7 linked regions of the Homo sapiens genome follow. The protein of the gene in region 5 interacts with the protein of the main gene of each other region in a pairwise test. Each region holds a gene or a part of one and is shown on either strand. Other genes may lie near its edges. The genes, in order: MS4A13, FAM3C, LEUTX, TMEM218, AQP2, TMEM97 and SLC38A7.

The links.
Region 1: the proteins of AQP2 (region 5) and MS4A13 interact in binary tests that used the Homo sapiens proteins (3 or more experiments, as listed by UniProt).
Region 2: the proteins of AQP2 (region 5) and FAM3C interact in binary tests that used the Homo sapiens proteins (3 or more experiments, as listed by UniProt).
Region 3: the proteins of AQP2 (region 5) and LEUTX interact in binary tests that used the Homo sapiens proteins (3 or more experiments, as listed by UniProt).
Region 4: the proteins of AQP2 (region 5) and TMEM218 interact in binary tests that used the Homo sapiens proteins (3 or more experiments, as listed by UniProt).
Region 6: the proteins of AQP2 (region 5) and TMEM97 interact in binary tests that used the Homo sapiens proteins (3 or more experiments, as listed by UniProt).
Region 7: the proteins of AQP2 (region 5) and SLC38A7 interact in binary tests that used the Homo sapiens proteins (3 or more experiments, as listed by UniProt).

Annotation. Positions count from the first base shown.
Region 1 is NC_000011.10:60,521,623-60,526,206, forward strand, and holds part of MS4A13 (membrane-spanning 4-domains subfamily A member 13), read left to right. Parts: intron 1-2,274; coding exon 2,275-2,331; intron 2,332-3,584; coding exon 3,585-3,704; intron 3,705-4,584. UniProt on the Homo sapiens protein: May be involved in signal transduction as a component of a multimeric receptor complex.
Region 2 is NC_000007.14:121,347,992-121,352,006, forward strand, and holds the end of FAM3C (protein FAM3C precursor), read right to left. Parts: intron 3,279-4,015; coding exon 3,152-3,278; intron 2,560-3,151; coding exon 2,470-2,559; 3' UTR 887-2,469; downstream 1-886. UniProt on the Homo sapiens protein: May be involved in retinal laminar formation. Promotes epithelial to mesenchymal transition.
Region 3 is NC_000019.10:39,783,921-39,787,473, forward strand, and holds the end of LEUTX (paired-like homeodomain transcription factor LEUTX), read left to right. Parts: intron 1-606; coding exon 607-758; intron 759-1,777; coding exon 1,778-2,215; 3' UTR 2,216-2,371; downstream 2,372-3,553.
Region 4 is NC_000011.10:125,101,308-125,105,891, reverse strand, and holds part of TMEM218 (transmembrane protein 218), read left to right. Parts: intron 1-3,082; 5' UTR 3,083-3,158; exon of another isoform or gene 3,159-3,226; coding exon of another isoform or gene 3,227-3,255; intron 3,256-3,540; exon of another isoform or gene 3,541-3,574; coding exon of another isoform or gene 3,575-3,650; coding exon 3,651-3,760; intron 3,761-4,370; coding exon of another isoform or gene 4,371-4,448; intron 4,449-4,584. UniProt on the Homo sapiens protein: May be involved in ciliary biogenesis or function.
Region 5 is NC_000012.12:49,948,586-49,953,738, reverse strand, and holds the start of AQP2 (aquaporin-2), read right to left. Parts: upstream 3,003-5,153; 5' UTR 2,909-3,002; coding exon 2,549-2,908; intron 2,228-2,548; exon of another isoform or gene 2,070-2,227; intron 1,821-2,069; exon of another isoform or gene 1,651-1,820; intron 1-1,650. UniProt on the Homo sapiens protein: Forms a water-specific channel that provides the plasma membranes of renal collecting duct with high permeability to water, thereby permitting water to move in the direction of an osmotic gradient. Plays an essential role in renal water homeostasis.
Region 6 is NC_000017.11:28,321,460-28,326,036, forward strand, and holds part of TMEM97 (sigma intracellular receptor 2), read left to right. Parts: intron 1-4,043; coding exon 4,044-4,188; intron 4,189-4,577. UniProt on the Homo sapiens protein: Sigma-2 receptor which contributes to ameliorate dysfunctional cellular processes and slow degenerative progression by regulating cell functions including cholesterol biosynthesis/trafficking, membrane trafficking, autophagy, lipid membrane-bound protein trafficking, and receptor stabilization at the cell surface.
Region 7 is NC_000016.10:58,674,429-58,679,012, reverse strand, and holds part of SLC38A7 (sodium-coupled neutral amino acid transporter 7), read left to right. Parts: intron 1-118; coding exon 119-317; intron 318-538; coding exon 539-680; intron 681-1,588; coding exon 1,589-1,687; intron 1,688-2,666; coding exon 2,667-2,724; intron 2,725-2,891; coding exon of another isoform or gene 2,892-2,937; exon of another isoform or gene 2,938-2,958; coding exon 2,959-3,073; intron 3,074-3,289; coding exon of another isoform or gene 3,290-3,399; exon of another isoform or gene 3,400-3,479; intron 3,480-3,670; coding exon of another isoform or gene 3,671-3,699; exon of another isoform or gene 3,700-3,763; intron 3,764-4,584. UniProt on the Homo sapiens protein: Symporter that selectively cotransports sodium ions and amino acids, such as L-glutamine and L-asparagine from the lysosome into the cytoplasm and may participates in mTORC1 activation. The transport activity requires an acidic lysosomal lumen.

The sequences.
Region 1 (4,584 bases), on a different chromosome or scaffold from region 5:
ATTTTTCATATCATTATTGGCATTTTGGTCAAAGCCATCTGACAAGTCTCTAGGGAGTTCCAAACTTTCCCACATTTTCCTGTCTTCTTCTAAGTCCTCCAAACTGTCCTAACATCTGCCTGTTACCCAGTTCCAAAGTCACTTCCAAATTTTTGGGTATCTTTTCAGCAGCACCCCACTCCTGGTGCCAATTTATTGTAATAGTCCATTTTTATGCTGCTAATAAAGACATACCTGAGACTGGGCAATTTACAAAAGATAGAGGTTTGTTGGACTTACAGTTTCTCATGGCTGGGAAGGCCTCACAATTGTGGCAGAAGGCAAGGAGGAGCAAGTCACATCTTACATGAATGGCAGCAGGCAAAGAGAGAGGGCTTGTGCAGGGAAACTCCCATTTTTAAAACCATCAGATCTCATAGGACTTATTCACTATCACAAGAACAGCATGGGAAGGACCCGCTCCCATGATTCAATTATCTCCCACTGGGTCCCGCCCACAACACATGGGAATTATGGAAGCTACAAGATGAGATTTGGGTGGGGACACAGAGCCAAACCATATCAAAAGATCAGACAGATAGATAGATAGATAGATAGATAGATAGATAGATAGATAGATGTATATATATAGATATATACACACATATATATGTATGTGTGTGTTTGTGTGTGTGTGTAAAAATCACCAAATATTAAGTGATGTTGGAGAGAGAATCAGAGAGTCAAAATTTCAATTCATTCGAAAAGAGGAATGGCCAAGGGGTCAATAGATTACTTAAACCATGAAGGATAGTGAGTTATAGAAACTGACATGTGATTCAAAGGTGGAGGAGAAAGAATGGTTGGATAGCAATAATGAGCAAGGAAACCACTTATCCCACACTTCGAACAGATGGAATGAGGGCTGTAGGATACAATATGGCTGCCCATTGAGACAGCAATTAATCACTAGAAGAAACAATGATCTCTAGGAGGTCTCCCACTTTTATACATACACTAATTCATAAGTGTCAATGGATTGCCTTGAAAAAATAGGAGAAAAATATTGAATTTTTGCACAAAATCCAGATAAATGATACATGGTTCATAAAAGATGAATGGCTCATAAATAATGCACTGGTTCATAGGTGATAAATGATAAATGATGCACTGGGTCACAAGTGTCAAAGCACTACCTTAAAAAAGAGGAGAAAAACTGTGGATTTTCCAACAAAATCCAAATAAATGATGCATTTTCCTTAGTGTTTGACCACTCATATTATAAAAATAGTATATTAAACTCCTAGGATAACTTATCTAAAATTTCAACTAAATGTAATTTAATACTAAACTTCTCACTTAAGCCTAAACTTTGAAAGGCATTTTGTAAAACACATAGTAATCGAAAGATAATCTCATTAGAGAGCACTCTAATTCAAAATTCACAAGATATTTTCACTTTAAATTCTGAGCTAGTTCTTACGTTCACTGTGTACCTCCTTAGAAATCTCAGCTTTTGTTGTGGAATGAAGTGCTGAACAAATAGATTTAAAATTATCCATGGGAAGTTTGTAAGCTTCAGGTTTGGGCTTCCTACATATAGTGTATAGCATGACAAAAATAGCCTTTGACTTGGATCTTTAGTGTCTTATCAATAAAACAAATAAGGAATACTTTGAGGAAATTGTGCAACCCATCTTCAAACAATATGGCATAGTTTTATACTTCTTGGAAGTAGACAGACTTCCTGACATGAAATAATGGAACCTCTGTTTTAAAAAACAAAGGCAAAGGCATGAATTTCTGCCATTACCTTAATAATGACTACAATCTCATAAAAGAGACTGCATATTTTGTACCATCACAATATGGAATAGATTCTTGAACCACTTTTTCCATATTTGGATATGTACATAGTAATCATAAGTAGTGTCATCATCTCATTAGGAAGGATAACATTAAAAGCAATAATCAAATGAGTTATATATGATGTATCTCATACACATAAAAGCAAACTTGGTTCCCGGTCAGGACTGCTTAGGCTGTCTGGCATATTATCACAGTGTGAATCTGCCCACTGTCCCCTATGTGTCTCTGTTATGAGTGACTCTACTATTACCTTTCAATGTATTACTACATGATGTAAATTTGTCCTGACCCATCTACTAAAACTTCTGTATATTTTGTTACTATTAGCATTCTTAAAATAATTGACTTACAAGAGAGTTATTAAAAGTACATTCTAAATTGGCAAGCATTATCAATGAGTATTTATAAATATGTTTTTATATCCAGTTTATCATTGCAGGAGTCTTCCTAATAAGAGTAACAAAGTATCCGACTCGATCTGGAGTAAGTTGAAATGTTTGAGGTATCTCTAGAAATCACTTATCACAAAGCTAAATATTAAGTTTTAATGAAAATATAACGTCTAAACAATGAAGGAATCTACCCTACCTGTAAAGTAAATGAAAGAATTAAGAATGAATCTAGAAGAACATAATTTAATATAGACAAATATACTGTATTGGTTAAAATCATGATTACTTTATGTATAGGTTTCTAAATGTATATATAGTTTTTGTTTTGTTTGATGTTCTGCCTTTTAACATTGTGTAAACTTTATAATTAAAAAATTTTAATAGGACCTAATGCCTTTAGATATAGACATTATACTACTGTAAAACTTCATTTTCTGAACTATCCAGTTTGGGAACAAGATTGTGTCCTGTAACAAAGTACAGAATTGGTCCAGATTAAAGATCCATGCATGGTATAGGTGGATAGAATTGGGAAGAACACTTTAGAATCTTAGAGCTAAAACGTACCTTAGAAATTAGTCTGCCCTCATAATTTTACAGATAAAAAAATGATGTCTGAAGATACTGATAGATTTCCTTAGATAATGAAAACCCAGGATTAAAATTTTATCAACTGACTCCTATTTCTACAAGCAGTCATTTTCCACTTTTTTTTTTTTCTTACAGTGGAACCACTTTTGTCCAAATCATATCTTATATGCTTTCTTCCAAATGACCTATAACATTGAAAAACACAATACTTTTTTTTTTTTTTTTTTGAGATGGAGTCTCTCTCTCTCACCCAGGCTGGAGTGCAGTGGCACAATCTCGGCTCACTGCAAGCTCTGCCTCCTGGGTTTACACCATTCTGCCTCAGCCTCCCAAGTAGCTGGGCCTACAGGTGCCCGCCACCAAGCCCGGCTAATTTTTTTGTATTTTTACTAGAGATGGGGTTTCACCGTGTTAGCCAGGATGGTCTCGATCTCCTGACCTCGTGATCCACCCGTCTCGGCCTCCCAAAGTGCTGGGATTACAGGCGTGAGCCACTGCGCCCGGCCCCAAAAAATACAATATGTTTTAGCCTAAATGGAAGATTAATGATTAATGGACTGATGGTGTTAATGTTTCCTCCAGATTAACTGGGCTTCATATAAATCAGAAAAATATTTTCTTAATATTTAATACTTCTAAGACTTCAGAAACTAGATCAAAGTTTTAACTAGATGAGTTTTTTCAGCAATGCAAACTATTACACCAAAATGTTTATTCTGAATATAATAAATTTGCCCTCTGTCTCCTTTTCAGATTATAAGTACTTTAATCATAAACATCATCTGCATAATTACTACAATTACTGCAGTAACTCTAACAATAATAGAGTTGTCTCATTTTAATTCTGTGTCATACAGGAATTATGGACAAGCAGTAAGTGACCAATTCTATGGGAACATATTAATTTTAAAATTATTCTTTTTAATAATTTTGAAATCTTAGGAGGTAAGATGAGGCTTTTATTCGTCCTCATGAAATTCTTTGATTTAGTTGTGAGCTCTTGATTGAAAATTTTAAATCAAAAATAATTCTAGGCTGTGAGTTTTAGTAAATATTAAGAGAATGTTTGAATTCTTGACTTGCTGAATTAAAGTGAGTAAAAATTTGAAAGCTTCAGTGGCAAGTGTCTATGTATTAGGCACAGAGCCACTTAATGATTCTCTTAATACAAGAAAAGTATAATCCTGGACAATAAAACCATTTTGCAAATAAACAAAAGAATTCTGCTACTGACACATATGGTTCAAATTGTAGACACCTAGTAATTTCTGGCTTAACATAGAATTTTTCATACATAGCCTATCTTTGCATCTTACATAAATTTTGCTTTAAGGCCAAAAATGCTAAATATAAATAAACCTAACTTGTTTCCATTTAGTTGCCCAGTAAATGTGAAGATTTTTACTGATAACACAATAGTTTTATTTTAATTATATTGGCTTTAAATTCAGAATCATAAAATATTAGTGGGGCAAAAGACCTTAGCAAAGTTAATACAAAATCTCACATTTAAAGTGAGGACAAATTGGAGTGAAACACCTTGTCTGACCAACAGAACAAAACAAATAACAATTTCAGTAATGAGTAGAAGCGTCATTACAGGTGAAGGATAAACTTCCTCCTCCTCCCCTACACACTTTCACTCCATACCTGTGACATATTATTAAGGGGGACATCAGAGGAAAGAACCCAAACCTGGAGAACAAAACCCTGGAGGACAGTGATACAATAATAGAAAAATGCACTAATACCC
Region 2 (4,015 bases), on a different chromosome or scaffold from region 5:
ACTGAACATGGCACATTTTGCATTCAATTAAGGGAGAGTTTGTTGACCAAACTGAATGAAATTATAACTTTTTTGGTCAAGTTATTTAAAATTTATGTAAATTTTTAAAGTATAAAGTGCAACAGGCTAAATGAACTCAGCTTTGATCTGTCATAAAATTATAACATAGCTGATTCACTTAAAAACAAGTCCAATATAGAAAGAACAATGATAAATTTCCCATTAATCCAATTAAATTCAGGAATATAAAGACTCTGGTTCAATCTTCCTTTAATTTCCCAAATACCACTTATTTTCCTGCTTTCTCTTGTTCAATTTTAACATTCACATTACAATACACTTATTCTGGGACAGCATCGGATTACAAATAAAAAATATGCATCGATAAGCCCATAAGCACCATTTCAAATACTATGTCAATGTTAATTTGATTTTAATAAAGAACATTCTTAATATTAAATGAGCACTGTTTCATGTCTAAAACCGATTTTAAAGAGGTATCTGAAAATGTAGTATAAAGTTATTGCTTTCAAAGTTAAGTTGGCACAATCTATACAAGATTGAACTGAGACAAAAGGAAACCACACCAGTTAACATAACCAATCTTTGTCTTCTTTTAACATTTTATATATCTGGAAAAGCTATCCTTTTACAGTCTTAATAAAAGGGCTTTTTCCGCCATCTAGATACTTAGCTTCTTACATGTTAAGACACATCTAGGATATTACTATTTTTAACCACAGCAACAATTTTTTTTCCAAGTTAGGCAGTATAATAAATGCTTGAAAAACCTTGTGTGAGTTTTTGTGAAGTTCTGTAGGTATATTACTTTGCCAGATAATACAAAAAAAAAAAAAAATTCACAAAGCAAAACCAAGAGTATTTATTTTCATTATTTTAAAAAACTGCAACATTTATTTCACAATCCCTGGAACTGTAAAATAACTATTCTTTTAATTTACAGAATTGAGGGAAGTATTTTAAATGTCAAAATACACATGCTGAATGTGATTTAGCATATAAGCACCAAAAATCCCAAAAGTATACAAAGATTGTTTAAACATATAAGGTGCATTTATTCATGAATTAATTACATTCAGTTTGAAGGAAGAAACAGTACTCCAAAGTTCATCAATATTTAAGAAATTATCCGAATAGCTTCCAACTTGGTTTACAGCTAAATAACAGATACTGCTTTTAGGTTTTTTTATACAATGCATCTAAACTTTAGGTTCGAAATTTAAGTGCTGCCTTACACTGTGAATGGCAGTTTGATCACTAAATTTATGTTCCAGTTTGAGATACTTCATACACAACATATATTTAATGCCCTGAAAACTTCTGCTTAAAAACTGAGTTATTTAGTGAACATCTGAAGGTAACAAAAAAAGATAGATCTTCTATATTTTTATGTAGAATTGGGTATAAAGTCATTTGGGGTCAAACACAATTATTTTTTAAATGTTATCAGTCCGCCCAGTAATAAGAACTTTTGTAAATATGCCACTATAGCTTCGGGCAATAATTGCTATTATGAAGTTAGATAAACACAGGATTAATTTCTTGGTTTACAAATCAAAATTATTGTGATATTAAAGCATGCCTCCTTCCAAACCACTTGGTCAATGCTGATAACAATTAAGAAAAACGTATGCTAGTATTGCTCTAAATATACTGACTTAGCTGTCCTGAATGACCTAATTAGGTTGGGGAGGGGACTTGGCCTGGTTCTCCAGTTCTGTGAAGCTGCCACCTCCAGCCTCACTCTAAATAGCTTATACAAAATCAAGTTATTCCCATAGCTAACACAAATCCAGCAAGCTGTGGTCCTAAATGCCATCTACATTTATATATTTACTTTTTTACTGTGTACATTAAGAATTTTGTTGTGCTTTTCACATATCCGATGTATGTTTTCATATTAAACATTCCTCAGTTTCTTGGGAAGGAAAGAAAAAGATCATGAAAAGAGGTACATCAGGAGAGTCGGACTGTAAAGTAACATTACACACACAACTAGCCAAATCTCTTTTTAATTTAAAAGATAATGTCATCACAACGCAACATATAGAAACATAAAAGAAAATAAAGTATCCACCCTAAAATCCCTATTATTCCATGATATTTTCATAGCAACTAGTATATATATCAATATATTTTTCACAAACCATTCAGTTACACATTGTGTATGCTTTTAGAATTTAAAATATGTATTACCATAGCAGTCTAAACATTGTACTTTTAGGGAAATGTGCGGAGACATGGTTCAGTGATTTGATCATTGTGATGATTATTTACAATGCTATCTATTTACGTTAGCAATAAATAATCCTGATATCAAAAGAGACAATACTCATGCACACACCAAGATGGCTGCATGCTCTTAAAATATTTACACATAGCTCTGCCATTTATAGCTCTCCCATTAAGAGTGAAAGTGCGCTTTCTTCAATTCTCTCCACATTTCCATTAGTCTTGCTTCTGGGGGATGCATCCTTCCATTTCTACAACTTCAGGCCATCCTTCATATTTGTTTGTATCCTTATTGTTCTTTATGTGCTATTGGAACACAGTAATAATATACAGTTTAAAAAACCGTTGTAAACTGCTGATTTGCCGTAACATTTTACACACTTCTCATTTCAGTAATACTCATGTCAACAATAAGTTCATTTAAATTACTGGTCAAGATATTAAATGAGTGACCCTCAGGCTGTATCACATACATGGCAGACCTTCAAATAACAGCTGAAAGAATACATTGCACGTGCTTTTAAAGGATTATTTGCTACTCAAAAACTAACATTTACATTCTACTAAGTTCTAAAATATTTCCAAACTTCACTGATTCTAAAATCCAAAGCTCAATTAAAATCCTTAATAACTAAAGCTTCCGAAAAGGCTTAAGATAGGTAATCCTATTCCAATGCATTGTCCTGTAGGAAAAAATATTCCCATGCAGAATTTTCAAGTTTTGAAATTTAAAAGTACGATAGTTATTTCAAATAACTGATTACCAAGAATTTATGACAAATATATGATCATATTTACTATCCGCTTTATCTAATTTTCAAATAGCTGGGATGGGAAAATGTACCGTAAGGTTTCACAGAATTTGTTTTTGTTAATTCTGAGAGTCTATGACACTAACCTGTTCAAAAGGGCTTTTTGTCTTAATGCCCTTCCCACCACAGAAGACCCAGTTGTCTCTAAAACCAAGATTAGTAATAGATGTGCTCCCCAAATCAGCAATGAGCCGCCGTGCCTCATCATTGAGTCTTGAAGAGGGAGAGAAAGAATACAACAATAAACAGAGGGAACTGTATGCTAATACTGGTTCACTGGGATATTAACACAAAACATGAGACAAAATGAGACTTTAAATAACAGAACATTTTGGAAAATAATTTTTTTTCAGAGTTACATTTCTACTGGTTGAATTCTTTAGTGACAAAAGACATGAACTCCAACAATTAATTTTAAGTTTATTCTATTAAAAGGACCTGTTAGGTTTTTATTTCACAACAATTCACCTTCATTTAACTTTTTAAATTACACTCATCAAATAAATAAGGGATACCACAGTTAGTAGATGCCTATCCAGGCTATCCAAGGTCTTAAGCAATCAATATTTTTATAAAATTAATCTTTTTGAATCTCCACTAAACCCTCTGTAAATTACATTTGACCAGAATAAAGGTAAATGCTGACAAAAATCTGTATGTTTCTAACACTATGTTTTATTTAAAAGAAAATGAATTTTGAGAACAGATATATAAATTGTACTTCAGTGATAACTGCCAAGTGGTTACTTAATAAAAATGAAAATATTAACCACACAGCAGCTAAATGCCTACTAGCAGGAGGTGGAGCAGTGACAGAAGTCAACCACCAGGGAAACTACTAATTGAAAGATGTCCCTAAAAAATTTTGTGTAAGTGATCATCCTAATGGTCAATGATTTTCTCTCCTTTATCTCTAAGGAGAAAAGAAACTCAGAACATAAATGGTAGCT
Region 3 (3,553 bases), on a different chromosome or scaffold from region 5:
TCTAGACTGTGGGTTGTCTAGAACTCTGCTGTTCCTTTTGCCATGCAAAATCTCTTTAGTTTAATAAAGTCCTAGCTATTTATCTTTGTTTTTATTGCATTTGCTTTTGGGTTCTTGGTCATTGTGTTGCTGTCTATCTCATTTCTTAGGTCTAGTGGATAAAAGGGCGTCCATTGTCTCCTAAAGTTTTTATTATTTTTTATTTATGCTCTCTATTTCACTGAAGATTTCTCCCCTCATTTCTTGTATCTTTTTTTTTAATTTCCTTAAATTGGGCTTCACTTTTCTCTGGTGCCTCCTTGATTAGCTTAATAACTGACCTTCAGAATTCTTTTTCAGGTATATCACGGATTTCTTCTTGGTTTGGATCCATTGCTGATGAACTAATGTGATTTTTTGGGGATGTTAAAGAACCTTGTGTTGTCATATTACCAGATTTGGTTTTCTGGTTCCTTCTCATTTGTGTAGGCTCTGTCAGAGGGACGGTCTAGGGCTCAAGGCTGTTGTTCAGATTCTTTTGTCCCACAGGTGTTCCCTTGATGTAGTACTCTCCTCATTTCCTTCCGAATTTTTTTAATGAAAGCCTTTTATCTGTTCCCTCTGCAGAAGGGCCAAGGCGTTATCGTCGGCCACGCACAAGATTTCTCTCCAAACAACTCACAGCATTGAGAGAATTGCTTGAAAAGACCATGCACCCAAGTTTGGCTACAATGGGGAAACTGGCTTCAAAGCTACAACTTGATCTATCCGTAGTAAAGGTCTGTTCCCAAGTGTGTCTGTAGGTAGCACGCCTAACCCAGAGCTTCACACACACTTTTGATCATTGTTATAACAGTTCCTATTTATTGGCAATTGCTATGTGTAAGGACAGATGTTAAGCACTTTATATTTTTATTGTCATGAGCACCCACTTTATTGAGGAACACTAAAGCTCACATAGAAGAGCTGTCTTCCAAGCATTATAAACACAAGAGTTGGAATTTGAACCCAGACCTTTCCAACTCCAGACCCACCATGCTACACAGGACTCTTTGAGGCTGGATCTCAGATACTCCCATTTGGGTCTGTTCTTGTGTATTCAGGATGGGTTCTGCTTAATCAGGACCATCACAGTCATCCAGATGCCTGTCACTAAGTTCCCACAAAGTATTCATGGGAGAACACCTGGATGAACCCTAAAGATGACCCAAGCTAAACTCTCACCCCATACTCTGACTTTAAAATACTTTCTCTGGGCACCAGGAATGGTGGCTCACACTTGTAATCCCAGCACTTTGGGAGGTGGAGGCAGGAGGATCGCTTAAGCCCAGTTTAAGACCAGCCTGGGCAACATAGCAAGACCATGTCTTTACAAACAAAAATTAAAAATTAACCAGACATGGAGGCACATGGCTGTAGTCCCAGCTACTTGGGAGACTGAGATAGGAGGATTGCTTAAGCCCAGGAGTTCAAGGCTGCAGCGAGCTATGATTGCAGCACTGCACTCCAGGCTGGGTGACAGAGTGGTAGCTTGTCTCAAAAAAAAAAAATACACCACTAATAAAAACACCCTTCTATTTAATACATCACAATCTAGGTCATATTCCACCCATTGCTAGTACAATCCTACACCCACTTTTCCCTTGAAACCCAGGACAGCAGAGAGTAGAAAGGGCTTCCCTTGTTCCAATAAATGTGAGACTCTCTCTCACACCAAAAAACCGAATTCCTGAGGAACATGAGGATGCCCCTTTATACTCAACATCCATTATTAACCTCCCCCCTCCTCCCTCCTTAGATCTGGTTCAAGAACCAGCGTGCCAAATGGAAGAGGCAGCAGCGGCAGCAAATGCAGACACGGCCATCACTAGGGCCAGCAAACCAGACAACTTCAGTGAAGAAGGAGGAGACTCCCTCAGCCATAACTACTGCAAACATTCGTCCAGTAAGTCCTGGAATCTCTGATGCAAATGACCATGATCTACGTGAGCCTTCTGGTATCAAGAATCCTGGAGGAGCCAGCGCCTCTGCGAGGGTTTCATCCTGGGATTCTCAGTCATATGACATTGAACAGATATGTCTGGGGGCTTCAAATCCTCCTTGGGCCTCCACTCTCTTTGAAATAGATGAATTTGTAAAGATCTATGACTTGCCAGGGGAAGATGACACCAGCAGCCTAAATCAATATCTTTTTCCAGTATGCCTTGAGTATGACCAGCTCCAATCTTCAGTGTAACTTCTTACACATCACTTCTAGGGGAGGTCTGGATCTGACCCACTGAGACATATTTCCACACATCTTTAATGGTTTGACCCCAGTCTAAGTAGATCAGGGGCTGGGAATTTATCTTTTTCTGTAGAAAAAACAATAAAGGAACTCCCCTACCTTTCATCATTGCCTGCATTTTCTGAACTCCATTTGAGTGCCTCCTCACCCAAATTTCAGCATTAAAGATTGTATTCAGAGAAGTGACGCCAGGAACACAGTGACATAGGAGGTTCCTGATTGATGGACTGAATAAACGTCTGTGCCTACATCAGTTCTCTCTGGAAGAAAGTCAGAAGTGAGTGGAGAGACTCCTACACACCAGGCAACTAAGAAAATGTCTTAGCAGGCCAGTCGCGGTGGCTCACGCCTGTAATTCCAGCACTTTGGGAGGCCAAGGTGGGTGGATCACGAGGTCAGGAGATCAAGACCATCCCGGCTAACATGGTGAAACGCTGTCTCTACTAAAAATACAAAAAATTAGCTGGGTGTGGTGGTGGGCACCTGTAGTCCCAGCTGCTTGGGAGGCTGAGGCAAGAGAATTGCTTGAACCCGGGAGGCGGAGGTTGCGTGAGCCAAGATTGCACCACTGCACTCCAGCCTGGGCGACAGAGTAAGACTCCATCTCAAAAAAAAAAAAAAAGAAAAGGAAGAAAAGACAAGAAAAAAAATGTCTTATCAAACAGGCAGCAAAAGCTGAAGCACTCAGAAACACTAAACCCACCCTGGGCACTGAGCCATACAATCAGGAAGGAATCCCCAGTTCCCAGCTTCTCCCCCAGGAGAGAAGCAGTGAACCACACATATAGCACCCTAACAGTTGATGGTTAAGTTCCTAACGAGCCTGCATCAGGGAGTTGACTAGGTAGGTAAACTACAGACTTACAAGAGCCTGAACAGAAGCTAGGTGCCACCCAAAGCTTCACCCCAGCTCAGCCCAGCAATAAATCCAGGTCTATCAATTCCTCCTGGAAGAAGTTTGTCCACACATTGAGCACCCCAACTTTTATACCTGCACTCAAGGGACTGCATCCTAAATCCCCTAGCTCTGGAAATGGAAGGGATTAGGCATATGTGAGTCTCCCTAGCTCACAGAGAAAAAGGTGGTTTTAAGCAGGCACACAAGCACTTCAGGGCTAGCCTTCCTCCACCACACTCCCCCAACCAGAGCAGTGCAGAGAAGGGGTCAAAATGTACAGCTCCCAGTTACTCCTCAAAAAGGATTTGCCAGCACACTCTTCCAGCTGCTGCTTGATAGTCATGCTTTTAACCAGCCTGTATCTGGAAGTCAACAGGGCAGACAAATGC
Region 4 (4,584 bases), on a different chromosome or scaffold from region 5:
TGTATTTGGGTTTATTTTTACAATCTTATTTTGTATTTTCCATTTTCCTTGCGTATTCTTTGTTCTGCCACCCACCTCACACCCACTGACCCTTGCCCCACTTTCTGTTTTCTTTATTTTTTTTTCACTTTACTAGTATAGAAGCTATTTTTTCTATTTCTGTTGCTTGCTGTTTACCTGTATGTTTTTTTAACTTGTGTACTTAGCTTAAAAAACATATACCTCCTCCAAAACAAAATCACTGTAGAATGCTTTAACTTTGAACTATCCTTTTCCATCTACCATATAACTGTTGAGTAATATTTAGTCCTTTCTGATTTTTAACCCCTCAAAAATTGTCATTATTACAGAAATCTTTACTGTCAATATTTCTTAATAATTTTCTCACCATGCTTCCTGTATCTCATACCTCCTTTCTTGGTTCATTTTCCTTCTTGCTGAAGTATGTCTCTGAGTAGCCCTTTCACTGAGGATCCTTGAGAGGTGTACTACATTTCACCCTTTGTATGTCTGAAAACATCTTTGTTTTACACTTACTCTTGAGGGAGTCTTGCATGCCAGCCTGTGGGTTTAGTTTTGTCTCTGCTGGGATCCAATGGGTTCTCACTTTTAGTCTAGTTTTCATGTTAATCTTTCTATTTGGGATTCCCATATCACATCGGTAGTATTGAATCTCACACATGGATATGATGTGAGGTGGGGATTCAGATTTCTCTTGGGCTGTTGTTTTTTGACCTGTGGCCTGAAGCACTCAGCCAGCTTCCTTCCAACTAAGTCAGTAGCAAATTATTTAGACCCTATTTCAAAAACTGGTCAATCCTGTGAGGGCCCAGCTTTCTGCATTGTTCTCATTGCTAGTTCTTTGCCATCGTGGGCTTGAGACCTTATCTGCCCTGAAGAGAATCACCCTGAAGGTCTGTATCAGGCACCAGGACCCTCGTAGACTTTTAGGCTCAGCTCAGGCCTTGAGTTACATTTTTTTATAGCACTTAATGATTTTTCTTTATTGCTTTCGAGCTCTGCTGTGTACTAAATTCTTCTTGTTCTATTTTATTGAACATTTATGTGTTTGCTGTTGTATGAGGCACTTCCCTTGTTAACTTCCATCCAGCATATTGACCAGAGGTTACAGTCATCTTTCTAAAACTCCATATGATCCTTTCACTCCCTCACCTGATGTTTGTGGACTTGTTAGCACTGTGTCATTTATTCCTCCCACAGATACTTGTTGTGCATAATCTCTGTGCTAAGAACTGGGGTTACCACAGTGAGAAAGATATCAGGTCTCTGCCTTCGTGGAGTTTACTATTCTAGTTGGACAGACAGAAAATAAACTTGTAAACAAATAAATGAAAATATTAACTAGTTTTGTGAAAAATGCTCTGAAGGAAATAGAGTGATGGAGAGTCAGTGTTTGAGGGGTTACTTTAGAGAAGACACTCGGGGAAGACCTCACTGAAGAGTGACATTTAAGCAGAAATCAGAAGGCTGAGGAAAGCCAGTCCTACAAATAGTAGCAGGAGTGCTTGGGGTTGAGGGCTAGTTCCAGGCAGTGGAAACAGCAAGTACAAAGACCCAGAGATGGGGAAACCCCGGGCGTGTTAGAGTGACCGAGATGGCGCCCATGTGGCCCTAATGAGGGCAGACTGCTCCCCAGAGAAGTTAGGCATGCAGGTGGGCCCCAGGTCCCATCTCCCCTCACTCTGTCATCTTTTCACTCTGATTCTTTCCTAAATGTGCCTGTGCAGAGTATTTCCTTTGTAAAGCCCCTCTCACTATTGCAGTTCCCACTGCACTTCGCTTTTACCATTAATCAGAATGTAATATGGACACTTGTTTTCAGGACAATGTTCTCCAATAGACCTTGAGCTTCTGTCAGAAGATATCTTATTCACCTTTGGCATCCCCAGCTTGTAGCGCAGTGCTTTACATGGTGGGAACATCATAAATGTTGATTCAATAAACGTATTTTTTTTACCAGTTCATGCTTAGACCCTCCTTTCCAATAACTTTATAACTTCTCATAGCTAATATTTTCGTGGTATTTAAACCATAAGGGTAAAGAAAACCAGCAACCTAGAGGAATGTGTTTGCTTAAGACTTGTCTCCAATGCTGAAAAGGAAAACCAGGAGAGGTAGTGTGGTGTGCTGTTCCTCTGCTGTGAGTTGAATGGTGGTCCCCAAAAATATATGTCCGCATCCTCACCCCTGGAATCTGTGACCATGACCTTGTTTGACAAAAGGGTCTTTGCAGATTTAATTAAGTTAAGCATCTCAAGATAATACTAGATTATTTGTACAGACCCTAAATCCAATGACAAGTACCGTTATAAGAGACAGAAAATGTGAAGACAGACACAGGAGAATGCCATGGGAAGATGGAGGCAGAGACTGGAGTTGTGAGTTAAAAGCCAGTGAATGGTGCCTGGAGCTACCAGAAGATGGAAGAGGCAGGGAAAGATTCTCCCCTAGAGCACTGATCCCCAATCTTTTTGGTACCAGGGACTGGTTTCATGGAAGACAGTTTTTCCACAGGGGGATGCAGGGGGGTGGTTTCCGGATGAAACTGTTCCACCTCAGATCTTCAGGCATTAGATTCTCATAAGGAGCCTGCAACCTAGATGCTTCGCACGTGCAGTCCACACTAGGGTTCGTGCTCCTGTGAGAACCTAATGCCGCTGCCACTGATAGGACAGGAGGCGAAGCTCAGGTGGTAAGGCTGGCTTGCCTGCTGCTCACCTCCTCCTGTGCGGCCCAGTTCCTAAAAGGCCATGGACCAGTACCAGTCCATGGCCCAGGGGTTGGGGACCCCTGCCCTAGAGCCTTTGGAGGGAGCACAGCCCTGCTGACACCTTTATTTTGGATTGCTGGCCTGTGAGAAAATAAATTTCTATTTTGAGCTGCTAATTAGGAAACTAATAGATACCCCATCGCGCTTATATCTCACTTACCCATCCTGTAACATGGCTATAGTAATACCTTTCTCAGAAGCTTCGCTCCGGGATTCAATGAGATATGTTTGTACGGCACTTAGCACACAGTGAATGTTCAAAAATAGTGATGGCTGTTCCTCTTCTTTAAGGACTGGGAGTTTTCATCCTCTTGAATAAGAACTCGACAACAGAGTGGGAACTTTCTGTCTTGTGATCCATTGCCTGGTGAGTCACAGCTCACACCATGGATTTAACCTGAGAGCTTCAACTTCTGCTTTGGCCCTGGAGTTCCCATGCCCTGGTGTCTTCTACCAGTTCTTAGGTAGGGTTTTATATTCAGAGAGGGTTCAGCTTTCTCCCGTGGGCTGGGGGAAGAGGTCAAAGTAGAACTCAGGTACCAAATTTGAAAGGAAACACTCAGAAAAAACTTCTGAGCGCAGAGCGGAAAACACCCTCTCAGTCCCCACCAAAGAGAAAGGCTTTGGGTTCTAAATTTCCAGTTTCCATTAAGGGACTCTGGGACTGGACATTTCTGAAAATTAATGACCTGTACTGAGTAATCCTCCTAACACACTGATCATCAAAAAATAACCTGTAATGAGTTTAGGCTTTCTGTATTTGTCTGAATGCTTTCACGGGAGTGTGTTGCACTGGAGCACAGAGGACACTCGATCGTGCGGCGCGCAGGGCGGGGGGCCGCCGCTGCCTCCCCGCGGGATGGCTGGCACTGTGCTCGGAGTCGGTGCGGGCGTGTTCATCTTAGCCCTGCTCTGGGTGGCAGTGCTGCTGCTGTGTGTGCTGCTGTCCAGAGCCTCCGGGGCGGCGAGGTAAGGCATTCTGTCCAACTGGGAGTCCTAGGTAAAGCAATTAGAGGCAAAATCGCTGATGCTCACTAAACATTTAGAATTTAAGAGATCAGTTTTGTAATTACTGGCAGTTTGAATGAGTTGCATTTTAACCTCTTTTTATAAACACTAACTGTGTTATTTATGCTCTGGAGCAGAGATGGGAGGAGAAGGAAGTAGTGTTCTTGAGTTCTAACTGTGGCAAGAAACTCTGCTTTCACTGCTTATTGAGTTTCTTGAGGCTGTATGTGTATGTGTTTATGAATTGTTCAGATTTATGGCAGAGGCTTGGTCCAGTACCCGAGGCTCTAGCCCTGGACCCAGGAAAACGAAAGCAACATTTGATGAGTTGGGCCTGCTTTCTATATCAGGCATTGCCTTCAGAACAGGGTTAGGCCATAAACCGACTCTGAAAACACTAGAGTTGCACTCTGGCAAGACAGTGTTAGTATGAAGCAGAGAGTTGTAGAATTTTCTAAAGTATTCTGTTCTAAAAACAACAGAAGTGGAGGTGGAGAGGGGATGCTTTGGTTTTTCTTGATTATGACTTTGGGCAGAAGTAAAAATAAAAACTACACATTTCCATTCTTAGGAATTGGGAATTACCAAGAATAAATGGGAATGCACCCAGCTGGTACCTGTCTAGGAAGAAGGACTTTGGGATGAAGAGGTTGTTGACAGCAGGCCTCTGGACATTGTTAAGGGACTGAAACATAGAATATTGGCTCCAAGGAAGAGACTGTCCAGACCTAACTGATCAAAGAAGAAATTATAGACAGTGCTTTTAATAATTTGTCTTTTTAACC
Region 5 (5,153 bases):
TTGGTGCAATGAGAGGCCTGTGGTCTTTCTTCCTGAGGTTAAATGGCTCCCAGAGACAGGGTCTAGGGACTTGGGTCTGGGGGACAGTCCTAGTGTGCCCCTTTCCGCTATGAGTCCGGAATCTACCTCTTTCCCTAACCCTTGTCTATTCCCCACTGCCTTTCAGGCCTCAGGTTTGCCCTGTTAGTTTGCTCCCTGCACATCCTATGGAGGTTGGGGTAAGGGCCCTGGAGCTGTGTTGGACAATGCCTCCACACCCATGTAGGCTGCCCATGGTCTCAGCAGACCCTGCCTTGGGTAAGGAGAGAACTCGGGGCTGAGTAAAGAGGTGATTTCATAACTGGGCCGCACCCAGCACTGGATTTCTCCTTGGGTTTTGTCACCCTGTACCCTACACCCTGCCTTCTGGGGCTGGGCACTGCACTGGGTGGAACAGTGACAGCTCTCAGCTCCCACGCTCTTTCTCCAGGCCCTGAACCCCCACCCCTGGGTCCGAGACATCAGGTCAGAACCCTTGGGTCTCTCTAGGGTCTAACCTCAATCCCTCCTATTGTTGTCCAATGCAGAGTCTCTAGAGGACAGTGAAAAGAGCTTTGGAAGCAGACACTTTGGAGGCCTCTGACTTGCCATGGGACTACTTAATTTGGCCTCAGTTTCTCCTTCTGTGAAATGGGATAAGAAAATGGATTCTGGAGGACTGTGGGAGGACTAGAAATGACATATTGGTTCTGTGACTTTGATCAATTGCTGTTGAGCCTCAATTTGCCACTCACCATAGGGGGAACCACAGAATTTCCCTTATAGCGTTGTACCAATGATGAGATGATAGCTGGCCTGGCACAGGGCAGGTGCATGTCAATGATTAACTTCCTGGTGGCCAGGCTGGCTCTCAGTGTCCTCAAAGGACACTTGGGATTGTCTTGAGGGTCATCTGGCTCTCCTTAGCCTCAGAGCAAGTTGGTCCCACCACTGCCCCATTCCATCCAGGCAGGGTTCTCCCCAGGTCCTCAAGGTGGTAAATGCTGAGAAGTGGCATGGAGGAGCCCTCCCAGACCTTTCTCTTCTGAGGGCCCCAGTCAGTTGTGAAATGATGGAGGAGGAGGACTGCATGTTTCCCATGGCCTTTCACTCCCAGTGCCCTGCTATTAGAGAAGGACTTCCTGGTCATGCTCTCAGGAAGTTCCTTTTTCAGTCTAACTGGACCTCTTCTTGCTGCAAACTGAACTAATTTTGTTCTCAGAGGAAATGAGCCCACTCCTCTGCTTGCCCACCTAGCCTTTCCTTGGCCCCTGGCCCCCAGCCTTGTCATATTTTCCTCTTTAAAGAACAGAGGCTGGGTGTGGTGGCTCATGCCTGTAATTCCAGCACTTTGGGAGGCTGAGGCGGGTGGATCACTTGAGGTTAGGAGTTTGAAACCAGCCTTACCAACGTGGCGAGTCCTGTCTCTACTAAAAATACAAAAATTAGCTGGGATTACAGGCGTGTAATCCCATGGGAGGCTGAGGCAAGAGAATGGCCTGAGGTGGAGGTTGCAGTGAGTTGAGATTGTACCATTGCACTCCAGCCTGGGCAATAGAGTGAGACTCCATCTCAAAAACAAAACAAAACAAAGCAGAGAAGTTCCCTAATTGGGATACCTCTGTCCCACAGATGAGGAAGGGCCACTTGTGCAGAGAAGGGGGCGCCCACAGAGATTGTGCGGGACTCATCAAAGACATCAGGACTCTTGTCCAGTGGCTCAAGGATGGAAAAGGCCGGGAACTACCGGAAACAAGCACAAAAGAGGCACTCACTGTCCTGGCTTAGGATGGGGGTACAGAGTGAGTGTTGATCTGTTGGGGGCACAGGTCATTCCTCCACATTCATGGGCCTTGGATTCACAGGGCCCACACAGACTTGAGAGGGGAAGTGGGTGGGACATGGGGGAAGGGACTGTGGCACCACCCTCAGCTCCCAAAGGGCCCACGGGGCCCAGTTAGCGCCTGTATCATGTAATCAGCAGCCAGCTTATGGGCTCCGGGGACCTCCTCAAGGTTTGGAGAAGTGAGTATGCCCATTGCTGCTTGCAGGGCTGTGGTGTGTCCGTGCCTGGCCTGTAAGGAGCACCTGCCACGGGACCTGCAAACCCTCAAAGCAGAAGAAATGCTGGGCCCCTCTTCTCTCTTGAGAACCCTGTGATGATCACTCCAAGGCTCCCCGCAGCTTGGAAAGCATGTCTGCTCGGGACACCAACCCCTGCTGAGGTATAGCCCTGTCTTCACTGTAATGTAGGCGTTGAGTCCAACAGAAACCTGGATGAGGCTCTTCCTGCACGACGGTCAGGGTGGAAGAAGCCAGCAGTCTGTCTGCATCCTGCTTTGCTCTGGTATCATTGCTCCTTTCATCCTGACCCTCCTATGGTGGCTGTGTTCCTGGCTCCAGCCTCTCTCTCTGCCTCTGTCTCCATCTCTCTCCCTACATCACCCAGAGCCCATCCCTCCCATCTCATCCTTTACAAGGGATTCCCCAGGACCTGCCCCTTGTGGATGGCAAAGTTGTGGCTACTCACAGCATTGACAGCCAGGTCCCCGCGGATGTCTGCTGGCGTGATCTCATGGAGCAGAGCGGCTCCGGCCACAGCCCCCAGCAGCTGGGCAGCCACGTAGAAGGCGGCTCGGAGAACGGAGACGTGGCAGCCCACCAGGCAGGCCACAGTCACGGCAGGGTTGATGTGGGCCCCGCTTATGTGGCCCAGAGCCTGTACCAGGGTGCCAATACCCAAGCCAAACGCCATGGCAATCTGTAGCACAGAGGGCAGGGCCTGTGGCCAGTTGAGGGCAGAGCCGAGGCCAAAGAAGACGAAGAGGAGTGTGGCCAGGAACTCTGCGAACACAGCCCTGGAGAAGGCTATGGAGCGGAGCTCCCACATGCTGCAGAGCCCTGCGGGGCTGGCCCAGCTGTCTCAGGGCCAGGATGCTCCGGGCACTCGCTCTCGCACTCTATCGCTCTCTTTCTCAAGGCCTCTGGGGAGGCTGGGTTGTGGGCATTTATAGGGTCCTTCCATCCCGGATCTGGGCACGTGGCGGGGAGGTGGAGTCGTTGAGGCCAATACCTCTTCTCCTCCATGGCGGCCTCTGCCCCCATGCCCCATCCCAGCCCACCCACAGGCCTATCACCCTATCTTGGCCTTCACAGCTGACTAATGTTCCCCATTTAATGAGCTCCAGATAAGGACTGACGTCCCTGGTTTTCCGTGTTTGTTCCCTTGGTTACCCCAGGGCTGCTGCCCCAGGGCGTCTCCCAGCCCCCACAGGGTCTTGTGAATGGGAACGTCTGGTGGGGATTGTGCCCGGCCCCCATCTCTCTGACTCAAACTGTTGACCAAGGCAGGGGCAACACCTCACACAAAACTAAGAGAGAACATGAGTGCTGCTCCTTCTGGTAACTGGGAAGTTCTTCTGTCAGACCTCCAATTATTCCTGCTTCACAGGGATGGAAAACAACTGGTTGGCTTGTGACAAATTTCCAAGGCATAAAGGTTTGTGTCTTCTGTGCTTGCATTCTTGCAGCTAATCACCCATAAATCATTAAGCTTCACCTTCTCCTGGGAGCCCCAGCCAAACAGCAGCTCCTAGAGCCTGGGGGCACTGGGACCCTGGCCCTTGGTGATGGAGTCAACCTGGGGCGGCTGAGGAAGCTGAGGGTGTCCATTCTGGCATCAGCCTGTTCCATCTATGTGACTTAACCTTTCTTGTCTTTCTCTGTAAAATGGGGAGAATAAAACTGACCTAGTGGATTGGGGTTTGGATTGAATGAAACAATGTATGTCAAGTGCTCAGAGCAGCGCCTCGTCCACAGTAGGTGGTCAATGAATATCAGCCCTTACTTACAGTATTATTTGCACTTTGAGGAGAACAGGTCTTTGCACACTCATTTGTTGGGGTCCCAGAAGCTGTGACAGGTCCTAGAAACCCTGAGGAGCTCAGGGCCGCTCTGGCCACAGGAGAAAGACATTTCTGTGGGGCAGTGAGCTGTGCAGGCTCGGGGCGGCTGTGATGCCTGATAAGCAGCTCTCTGGCCTTGGTGCCCACTCAGCTCAGCATCTGGGCAGTGCTGCCTCCTGCTATCAGTGCTGCTGTGGCCACTGGGGTCCTGGAGGCGTTCAAGTCTAGAAGTTTCCCCAGCCCCACTCACTGGCCCTTCCCTAATCCCTCCAGCCTCGCTCCCTCTCCTGGGGATTCACAGCAGGGTCAGGCTCAGAGTGGGGACAGAAGGACGGGCTTCTGCACCCTGCCCTAGCTCCTGTCCAGCAGGTCCCTGGGCAAGTCACAGTCGCAGGAACAGAAATCTGGGAGAGATTGGAGACTGGAGTGGAGCGCTTTGTGTTGTATCATGGGGATGTGGGGTGGGCAGGAGGGGTGAGTATAGGCCCAGGGAGGGGAGTGACTTATCTAGGGTGCTCCAGCAGGTTAGTGGCTGAGCTGGGACTGGAGCCTGGTCTGGAGCTTTCTGCCACACCCCACACTACCGAGCCACATTCTGCGCCTCAGTTTCCTTGTCTGGACAATGGGAGTGTGGATGCCTACCCCATAAAGTTGTTTTGAGAATGCAGTAAGATAATGAACGGGAAGGTATTTTGCAACTGAGAATGTATCATATACATATATATATGGGGACTCGTGACTCCTGCTATTATGAAGGAGGAGGAAGAGAAAGCGGAAGAGGAAGGGGAGGAAGAAAGAATAAAAATTACCCATACAGAAGTGATGTTCCAAAAGAGCAGGGATTCCTGTGGGGTTTGTTCTCCTGTGTATTTCCAGTGCCTAACTCCTGGCCTGACACATAGACACCTGGTGCCCTGGCACTCTTCCCTCAGCCATCCCTCCCAACTTCAGGCATTCTGGGTCCTCCGGGAGAAGATCGACGGAGAGGGGGACCCCAACCCCTGTCATATAAAGGGCATCTGGGGCCCACCTCCAGACTCTGCACATAGGAAGAGACAAGGACTCAGAGGGGTCTGGCTGGGGTGTGCCTCTGCCCCCACCCAGGGAACATGCCTTCCCCACTGCTGGAGTGCAGTGGCTCAGCTCACTGCAACTTCCACCTCCCAGGTTCAAGCAATTCTGTCGCCTCAGCTTCCTGAGTAGCTGGGATTACAGGCACATGCCACCATG
Region 6 (4,577 bases), on a different chromosome or scaffold from region 5:
AACAGGGTCCTTTGTCACCCAGGCTTGGCGTGCTGTGATGCAGTCATGGCTTACCACAGCCTTGAACCTGAGCACAAGAGATCCTCCCACCTGTCTCCTGAGTAGCTAGGACTATAGGTGCACACCACCACACCTGGCTAATTTTTTATTTTTTGTAGAGATGATGTCTTACTGTGTTACCCAGGCTGGTCTTCTGGGCTCAAGCCATCCTCCTGCCTCGGGCTCCCAAAGTGCTGAGATTACAGGTGTGACCCACCGTGCCCAGCGTCAGCTTTATTTTTTTAATGCTGACTTACTGCAGAAGGCCCAAGGGCCAGTGCAGGCAGCATCTGGCCAGAACCTGTGTGTGTGTGTGTGTGTGTGTGTGTGTGTGTGTGTGTGTGTTTGTGTGAGATTTAGGCATTAGCACGGGCATCCTGGGTGTGTGTGTATCTGTGTGTGTGATGATGTTTGAAGGCATTAGCTCGGTGGCATCCTGGCATGGAAGGTCTGTGCCTCCATTCTTGTTGCTTTGGTGTAGGAAATGCTGATTTTGTTGCTTCTCTATGGGGCAAATAATAATAAACGCCTTGAGTTATTCTCATATTCTCTTTGAAAAATGCCAAAATTTAACATCTGTCATTTTCTTCCTGAAATAGAAGGAATGTTTCCCTAGAGTTAAAAAACCTGTAGGAGATCACCTAGTGGTTGGGCTGAAACATGCACAATAAATTTTTTTTCTTGGATTGCACCAAATCACTGCTTGGAAAAACTCATTTTTTTATTTACTTTTTGTTTTTCTTTCTTTTTTTTTTTTGATTTTGTTTTTGAGACAGTCTCTTGTCGCCCAGGCTGTAGTGCAGTGGTGCAATCTCGGCTCACTGCAACCTCTGCCTCTCGGGTTCAAGCAATTCTCCTGCCTCAGCATCCCAAATAGCTGGGATTACAGGTGCTTGCCACAACGCCTGGCTAATTTTTATATTTTGTTATAGATGGTGTTTCACCATGTTGGCCAGGCTGGTCTCAAACTCCTGACCTCAAGCGATCTGCATGCCTCAGCCTCCCAAAGTGCTGGGATTACAGGTGTGAACCACCACGCCTGGCCTGGAAAAACTCTTATTTTATTATGAAACAGTAAGAATTTAGTTTGGATAAGAACATGGTAAGGAGAGGATGGGAAGCATTTTGTAGTATCATTTGCAGCTGGGTAACATTGCTTCTGGTAAAAATAAGGAAAAACAAGTGAGCATCTGGCTCTGAAATCAGTCTGTGTTCCCATTCTAAATTATAGAAGTACAAGATTGGTGAGTAGCAACCACTGGTTTAGAGATCGTGCGTGCAGGCCAGGTGAATCTTTTATGTATAACAAGGGTGGGTTGAGTCAAATAGAGTCAGGTATAAGTGGAAACAGTTTCATTACCTTTGGTAGGGAGGCCATAACTAATAATTTTTAATGACCAGTCGTGAGCTGCGATTTTAATGGGATTAAACTTGAATATCTCCAAATATGTATTAATTACATTCAATTAATCATTATGTGCTAGCCATTATTTTAAAGACTACATGTATTAAGTCACTCTCTTACCAATAGTGAAGTAGGCACTATTACTGGCTCTATTTTATTGATGGGGACACAAGTGTAGGGAGATTAAAGGCCTTGCCTAAAGCCAGGCACTCTACCCCAGGTCCTACACGCCTCACCCATCTGCCAGGTGCCTGGGCTTTCTACTCTCCTACTCACAATTAGTCCCAGCCTCATTCTGGCATCAGGTGGCAGGTATATGACTGTGGGCAGATGGTTGGTTACGATTATGATAATTCATTATTACGACATCTGGGTGATTGTTTTTTAAATTTTGCTGATCTCATCTTGTAGGCCTTAGAAATTAAAGTGCTGTACAAGTCTGCCTCAGTTTATGAAATAGTTGGATCAGAGAGGTTGTAAACAAATTGAATAGAAAGTGAAGTTCAAATGGCCAGAATGCCTTTTTTTTTTTTTAATTTTTTTTTGAGATGGAGTCTCGCTCTGTCACCCAGGCCGGAGTGCAGTGGCTCGATCTCGGCTCACTGCAACCTCAGCCTCCAGAGTTGCTAGGATTACAGGCGTGAGCCACCACACCCAGCTAATTTTTGTATTTTTAGTAGAGACGAGGTTTCACCATGTTGGCCAGGCTGGTCTCAAACTCCTGACCTCAGGTGATCCACCCGCCTTGACCTCCCAAAGTGCTGGGATTATAGGCATGAGCCACCGGGCCTGGCCCAGAATGCCTCTTAAATTTTGCAGTCAGGCCGGGTGCAGTGGCTCACACCTGTAATCCCAGCACTTTGGGAGGCTGAAGCGAGGATCGCTTGTGCCCAGGAGTTCGAAACCAGCCTGGGCAATGTGGCAAAACCCCGTCTCTACAGAAAATTAGCTGGGCTTGGTGGCGCATACCTGTAGTCCCAGCTACTGGGGAAGCTGAGGTGACAGAATCATCTGAGCCCGGGATGTTGAGGCTGCAGTGGGCCGAGATCAAATCACCACACTCCACCAGCCTGGGCAACAGAGACTGTCTCAAAAAAAATAATAATAATTTTATAGTCAATCTTTTAAAGCAGGTAGTGTCATCCAGTATTTTTAAAAATCTAAAAAGCAAAAAAGGGATCTTAAGAAAACATCTAGTCCAAGTTGCTCATTTTACAGATGAGGAAGTAGAACCCTGGAGAGGGACAGTGACTTAGCCTTTGTGTTTCTTATCAATTCAATCCTATTCAAACCACATTCCCATCCAGAAAAGTGCTTAGAAGGAAGCGAAGGGCATTGCTATGAATTTCAATTTCAAATTAAGTACAAATTTGGATATCCTTTGGTCAATAAATTGGTTATCTAGCCAAAGCCTTTCTGAAATTAATAATATGCTAACAGGATATTTGTTTCTGGATGTTTGCTTAAAGTGCTCTTGCAGCAGTGGGGCTTCTATTTCACAATAGCGAGGCTTTATCTTTTGATTAAAAATTAACAGGAAAAATATTCTTGGATTTTCCATTGTAAGTAAGATAAATTCTTACCCTGGAGTTGCCTTTATTAATCATAATATCAAGACTTATTTGTCTTTGAAGGCCTGTGTGTCAGGGCAGCGCCACATCTAGGAGGTTAAATGTGACAAACGTTTAGTAGTCCACATAGAGCCAAGAGCACTAGGCTTTGGGCTCCTATAAAAGCCCAAGATGGGAAGCCTTAAACTCTGCTTCTTTTCTCTGCCTGTAGCCAGGTCAGCATGGATCCGCATCCTTTTTATTTGACAAGGTAATTACAAGCGTGGGGCCCAAGCTAGAACTGAGACGCTAAAACCCTGCATAACCAAGAAGCTACTAGGTAGTTTGTAGTTTGGGGCAGAGTTTGTTCTTCCACTAAAATCCTGTCTCCTAAAATAAACCAAAAATTAGAATTAGGGGAGTTAAGGAACTTGTTTGTCATATTGGAATTAAAGTGTCCAAAATTACATCGCCACAGAGGTTAGATTTACTTCCCCTTTCACTCCCACCCCCACCCCGCAAAAAGAAGAGGGAAATTCAATTCATTTCTGCATTTGAGGGAATCTGGCCTTTGGAGGAGTTTGGTGTGTAGTTGCCATTACAAAAGGGAAAGTGTCAGGATGGTTTTCATGTGTATTTGTTTTTTTAAACAAAGAATGATATTGTTGACAGAAATGTCACATTTGTTCATTCAGCGAACACCCTGAGTGCCTACCAAGTGCCAGATACTTATTGTTGCTCCTGACAGTGGCCAACACACCTGGATGTGTTATCTTGGAATTATGAACAGATTCTGGGTAACACAAAGAAGGGGCTGGAAGAGTTGAGAAAATTTCAGAGAAGGGAACATTTGAGTTAGGGATAGTAAGTTTTTATTAAATGACCACCTAGGCTGTGTCACAAAAGCCAGCTGGACATGCCATCTGCTGCCGGGGTAGTGGGGGGTGGCTAATTAATGACAGGCTCCTCCAGTGTATTTTCAAATGAGCTAGCGCCGAGCCTGTTGAGGGCAAGTGGCTGTAATTCATCATGATCGTTTTCTTTTTCAGTTTAGAAACCTGCTGAAGTGGTATGCTAAGGAGTTCAAAGACCCACTGCTACAGGAGCCCCCAGCCTGGTTTAAGTCCTTTCTGTTTTGCGAGCTTGTGTTTCAGCTGCCTTTCTTTCCCATTGCAACGTATGCCTTCCTCAAAGGTTGGTAAATGGTGGGAAAATCCCATTTTTACTCAGAAATCAGGTCCCAGAAATCTTTTGGGAAAGTATCTCCAAAGGGAAGGGGATGGTCCCCATAGTTTGTGGGAGAATGCTACAGGATCTGGGGTAAATAGCCAGGGTAGATCTTGTAAAGGGACATTAGTGTGGCTCAGGCTCATGTCTGTGGTCAGCAGGCCTGCACGGCTGCCTCAGTCGTCTGGAAATCCCTTGCATACACATGAAGCCTGAGACCACTTAAACAATGAGCTTGTTCCCTTTTGTTTTGTTCCCCAACAGAATTAATTTCTCTTTTTGTTGGCTTTTATTTCTCTGCGTTGGATAGTATCATACTGACTTATAAGCTGTAGCATCAGGCTAATCCCTAATGT
Region 7 (4,584 bases), on a different chromosome or scaffold from region 5:
CCTTTGTGAGATTTGCCAAGCTTGCTTTGGGCACTGGCCCAGTAAATGCTAGGCGAGCCCAGGGTGCCCTCTGCTGCCAGGCCTTTGCCACAAGCTCTTGTTCTGCCTCTGCCTGCAGGGTATGCTGGTTTTCATCATCAGTGGCCTTGTCATCCTGGCCTACTGCTCCCAGGCCAGCAATGAGAGGACCTACCAGGAGGTGGTATGGGCTGTGTGTGGCAAGCTGACAGGTGTGCTATGTGAGGTGGCCATCGCTGTCTACACCTTTGGCACCTGCATTGCCTTCCTAATCATCATTGGCGACCAGCAGGACAAGAGTGAGCTTCTCCCTCAGTCCCTACCCCATCTCTTCTTATCAGCCCCAGGGATCCTGGGGTGGAGGGAAAAGGCACTGAACACCTCTCCAGGACTTACCTGGGCCCAGCATTCATCTGGGAATCCTCCCTCCAGGCAGAGGGAGGTCCTGGGGCCCAGCAGAGCAGGAGGGCCACACCCCATGGTGGCCTGGCTTGACATTCCCTCCTTCCTCCCTGTGCAGTTATAGCTGTGATGGCGAAAGAGCCGGAGGGGGCCAGCGGCCCTTGGTACACAGACCGCAAGTTCACCATCAGCCTCACTGCCTTCCTCTTCATCCTGCCCCTCTCCATCCCCAGGGAGATTGGTTTCCAGAAATATGCCAGGTTTGGAGGCCCCAGCCTGGGTCAGACAGAAGCTATGATCCTGGGCAGCTGTAGACCCAAGGGCTCCTGGGGAACCCTGCTCCTCCATGCCACCTCACCTTGGGGAGCAAGAGTAGGCAAGGCAGGGCAGACCGGGGCTTGCAGGGTTTCAGATAAGACCATCCTTTTCTGTCTCCATCATAGAAAAAGGATGCATCCATGAGAGATTCAGTTCTAAATGTCCTTTTGCATCCATGAGTAGTTCAGTTCTAAGTGCCCTTGTCAAAGAAGGAACAGGTGGTATCTGGGCGGTGAAGGCAGCCTCCTGGCATTCCCTGGGAGGAATTTGGGTCTTTGAGACTGTCAGCCTACCAGCATCTTACCTGCAGCTTGGCATGAAGGAAGGAGACTGGTTTCCTGTCTCGGTGTCTGAAAGGCTGTGGGATTCTAGGCTTCCCCGTCTGTAAGTGCAGGGGCCATGCTCCGCTCTCTCCAAGGCTCCCATAAATGTTGACACAAAAGTGTCTGTACTCTCAACCCTCTTACCTCTGGCATCTCTTAGTTCTCAAAGGCCAGGCTCAGAGGATGGTCTCCCACAGCCCCTGCCCGGGCTGGGCTGCTCTGATTCAAGTCCCAGGTGTGCTTTGGAGCTCTGCTCTCTGCATCGTCTCTGAGCCATGGAGCTGAACCAGCACTTCCTGATGGCCAGGAATGCTGATCAGGTCCCCTGTTGGCTGTCCAGCTCCTTCCTAGCTGTGGCAGGTTTCTCTGAAACTACTTCTCAGGCGTTTCCTGAGTCTGCTTGGCATAGTCTCCGGTTCATTCAGTGGACACTTGTGGTCGCTAGAGCTGAAGGTGGATGTCCCTAGGGGTGGAATCAGATAAGAGGCAGCTGGGGATGAGGACACTTAGTCTCTCCTTCCCGGCAGCTTCCTGAGCGTCGTGGGTACCTGGTACGTCACAGCCATCGTTATCATCAAGTACATCTGGCCAGATAAAGAGATGACCCCAGGGAACATCCTGACCAGGTGAGGGTGAGGGCCCTAGGAGACATGGGGAAGAAGCCACCACTTGGGCCCCAGCAGGTGCTGGGTCAGGAACCAGAAGGCCACACAGGTGCTCTTCTCAAGGCTCATGAGCTCATCAGGGCTGACTTGGTCATTGTAGGAAGGAGGAAAGAGCCCCTGCTCTGATGTTACTGGAAGGAAGAGCAAGAATCAGAGACAGGAGGCACTTTGCCACCTACATCCAACAGATGAGCCAGTGTGAGGCTAGGCCTTGGGTTGTGGAGGAACCTGAGGGTGGAATCCCAGGGTCGAATTGCCTGTGTTTCCAGCATCTGCTTATCTGTAATTTCTGTATCTTTGAGGGTGAATTTATTATTAAAAAAAAAGGGGGGGGGCCAGGCACAATGGCTCACGCCTGTAATCCCAGCACATTGGGAGGCCGAGGCGGGCGGATCATGAGGTCAGGAGATTGAGACCATCCTGGCTAACACGGTGAAACCCCGTCTCTACTTAAAAAATACAAAAAAATTAGCCGGGTGTGGTGGCAGGCGCCTGTAGTAGCAGCTACTCGGGAGGCTGAGGCAGGAGAATGGCGTGAACCTGGGAGGCAGAAGTTGCAGTGAGCCGAGATCGCGCCACTGCACTCCAGCCTGGGTGACAGAGCAAGACTCCATCTCAAAAAAATACAAAACAAAACAAAACAAAAAAAACAATTTCCTTCTTTTGAAAGGAACAAACCAGTAAAGCAAAAGCCCCAGTCCAGGAGCCAGGAATTCTGGATTTTGGCCCCAGGGGGGCTTTTCTGAACCTCCAGGCCCCATCCCAGAGGGCCCTGGGACATAAGGATGCCTCTTCTCCCTGTTCCCAGACTTCTGTGGGTTGAAGCTATGGAATCCCAGTTGCTGGAGACCATGGTGGGCTGACCGAAGAGTGAGGGCGTGGGGTGGGTTGTGGCTCTGAGGGGTTCCCAGGTGGCAGCACCATGTGTGTTTGTTCACAGGCCGGCTTCCTGGATGGCTGTGTTCAATGCCATGCCCACCATCTGCTTCGGATTTCAGGTGCCAGTGCCAGTTGCAAGGTCCCTGCTGTCCCCTTAGATCACCCCACCCTGGGATGGAACCCAGCAAGGAGGAGGAACCCAGGCAGAATGGAGGAAATCCTGGGGGGAAGGATGGAACAGGGGCCTCAGGACTTGCCCCTTGTTCCTGGGGTCTTTGTTCCCAAGGTACCTTCCTCTGGAAACTGGGGTTGAGGTCATTTCCCCACCATGACGGTGCCCTTCACCTGGACAGTGCCACGTCAGCAGTGTGCCCGTCTTCAACAGCATGCAGCAGCCTGAAGTGAAGACCTGGGGTGGAGTGGTGACAGCTGCCATGGTCATAGCCCTCGCTGTCTACATGGGGACAGGTGAGTGCTCCCCCCCCCCAAGACCTGGGACTAGAGTGCTCTCACTTCCACAGGAGTCCCTAGGTCCTGGGGCCTAGCTTTCCTGGGGACAGCCCTGCATTCCCAGCATGACTTGTATAGGCATTGGCTTGAACTTGGCCTGCCTGGAGCCTCCTCCTGCCAAGATGAGAGTGGTGTATTCATCCATTCATTCACCAGTTCTAACTTGGTGCCTAGGAAGTGCCAGGAACGGTTCTCAGCATGGGGGATGCCATGGAGAGAGACAGAACTGGTCTTGCCCTCATGGAGTTGACATTCTTGTTGGAGAGACAGTCATGCAGGAGTAACTGGGGAATCAGTAAGGAATTCCAGATGGTGGCAAGCATCCTGATGACAGTGAAATAGGGAAGGTGTGTTTTGTTTTATTCTATTTTATTTTGTTTTGAGAAAGGGTCTCAGAAACTGTCGCCCAGGCTGGAGTGCAGTGGCATGATGATAGCTCACTGCAACCTCAACCTGCTGAGGTCGAGTGATCCTCCTGCCTCAGCCTCCAGAGTAGCTGGGACTACAGCCATGTGCCATTGTGCCCAGCTAATTTTTTTTTTTTTTTTTTTCTAGCAGAGACAAGGTCTCACTATGTTGCCTAGCCTGGTCTTGAATTCCTGGGCTCAAGCAATTCTCCTGCCTCGGCCTCCCAAAGTGCTGGGGTTACAGGCATGAGCCACCAACCCAGCCTAAAATGGGGAAGGTATGAATGGGACTGGATGGGTGGCTTTGGGAGTGGTTCACAGAAGGTTCTTCTCAGAGAAGGCCCAAATGATGAGAAAGAGCCAGAAGAGGAGGAGCTGGGGAAGAAGGGTTCCAGGCAGAGGAACCACAAAACACCAAATCACTGAGGCAGGGCCAGGAAGAAAGTCTATGTGGCTGGAGTGGTGTGTGATGGGGGCAGGTGAAGGCAGTGAGGCCAGACAGGCACTGGCAGCCAGATCCTGTTGGGCCTCGAGGGCTGCTGGGAGTCATCGAGGAAGTGTTTTAAGCAGGGGGGTGGTTCGGGGAAAGGTGGCTCTGGCTGCCGTGTGGAGAGTGGTTGGGGTGAGGGAGCAAGTCTAGGAGACCCTGGAAGAAGGATCCCCTGAGTTCTTTCCACGGATAGACCGTAGGAGCTGCCTGGGCCAATACTGTTCTAGCCTCTGAATACACAGCCAGGAACAAGAGAGGCAAACAGCCAAATCCCTATTCTCCTGGGGCTCATGTCCTGGCTGGGGAGACAGAAAATAAGCCTGTAAAAATTAATTACTATTATTATTGTTATTATTTTTATTTGTATTATTGTTTACTTAAAGACCAGTGTGATAGTACAGTTAAAAAAAAATTAGAAAGCGATGAGGCCAGTCACAGTGGCTCACACCTATAATCTCAGCTATGGGAGGCCAAGGTGGGAGGTTCTCTGGAGCCCAGGAGTTCAAGACAGGCTGGGCAACATGGTGAAACTCCATCTCTACAAAAAATTTAAAAATTAGCCAGGTTATGGT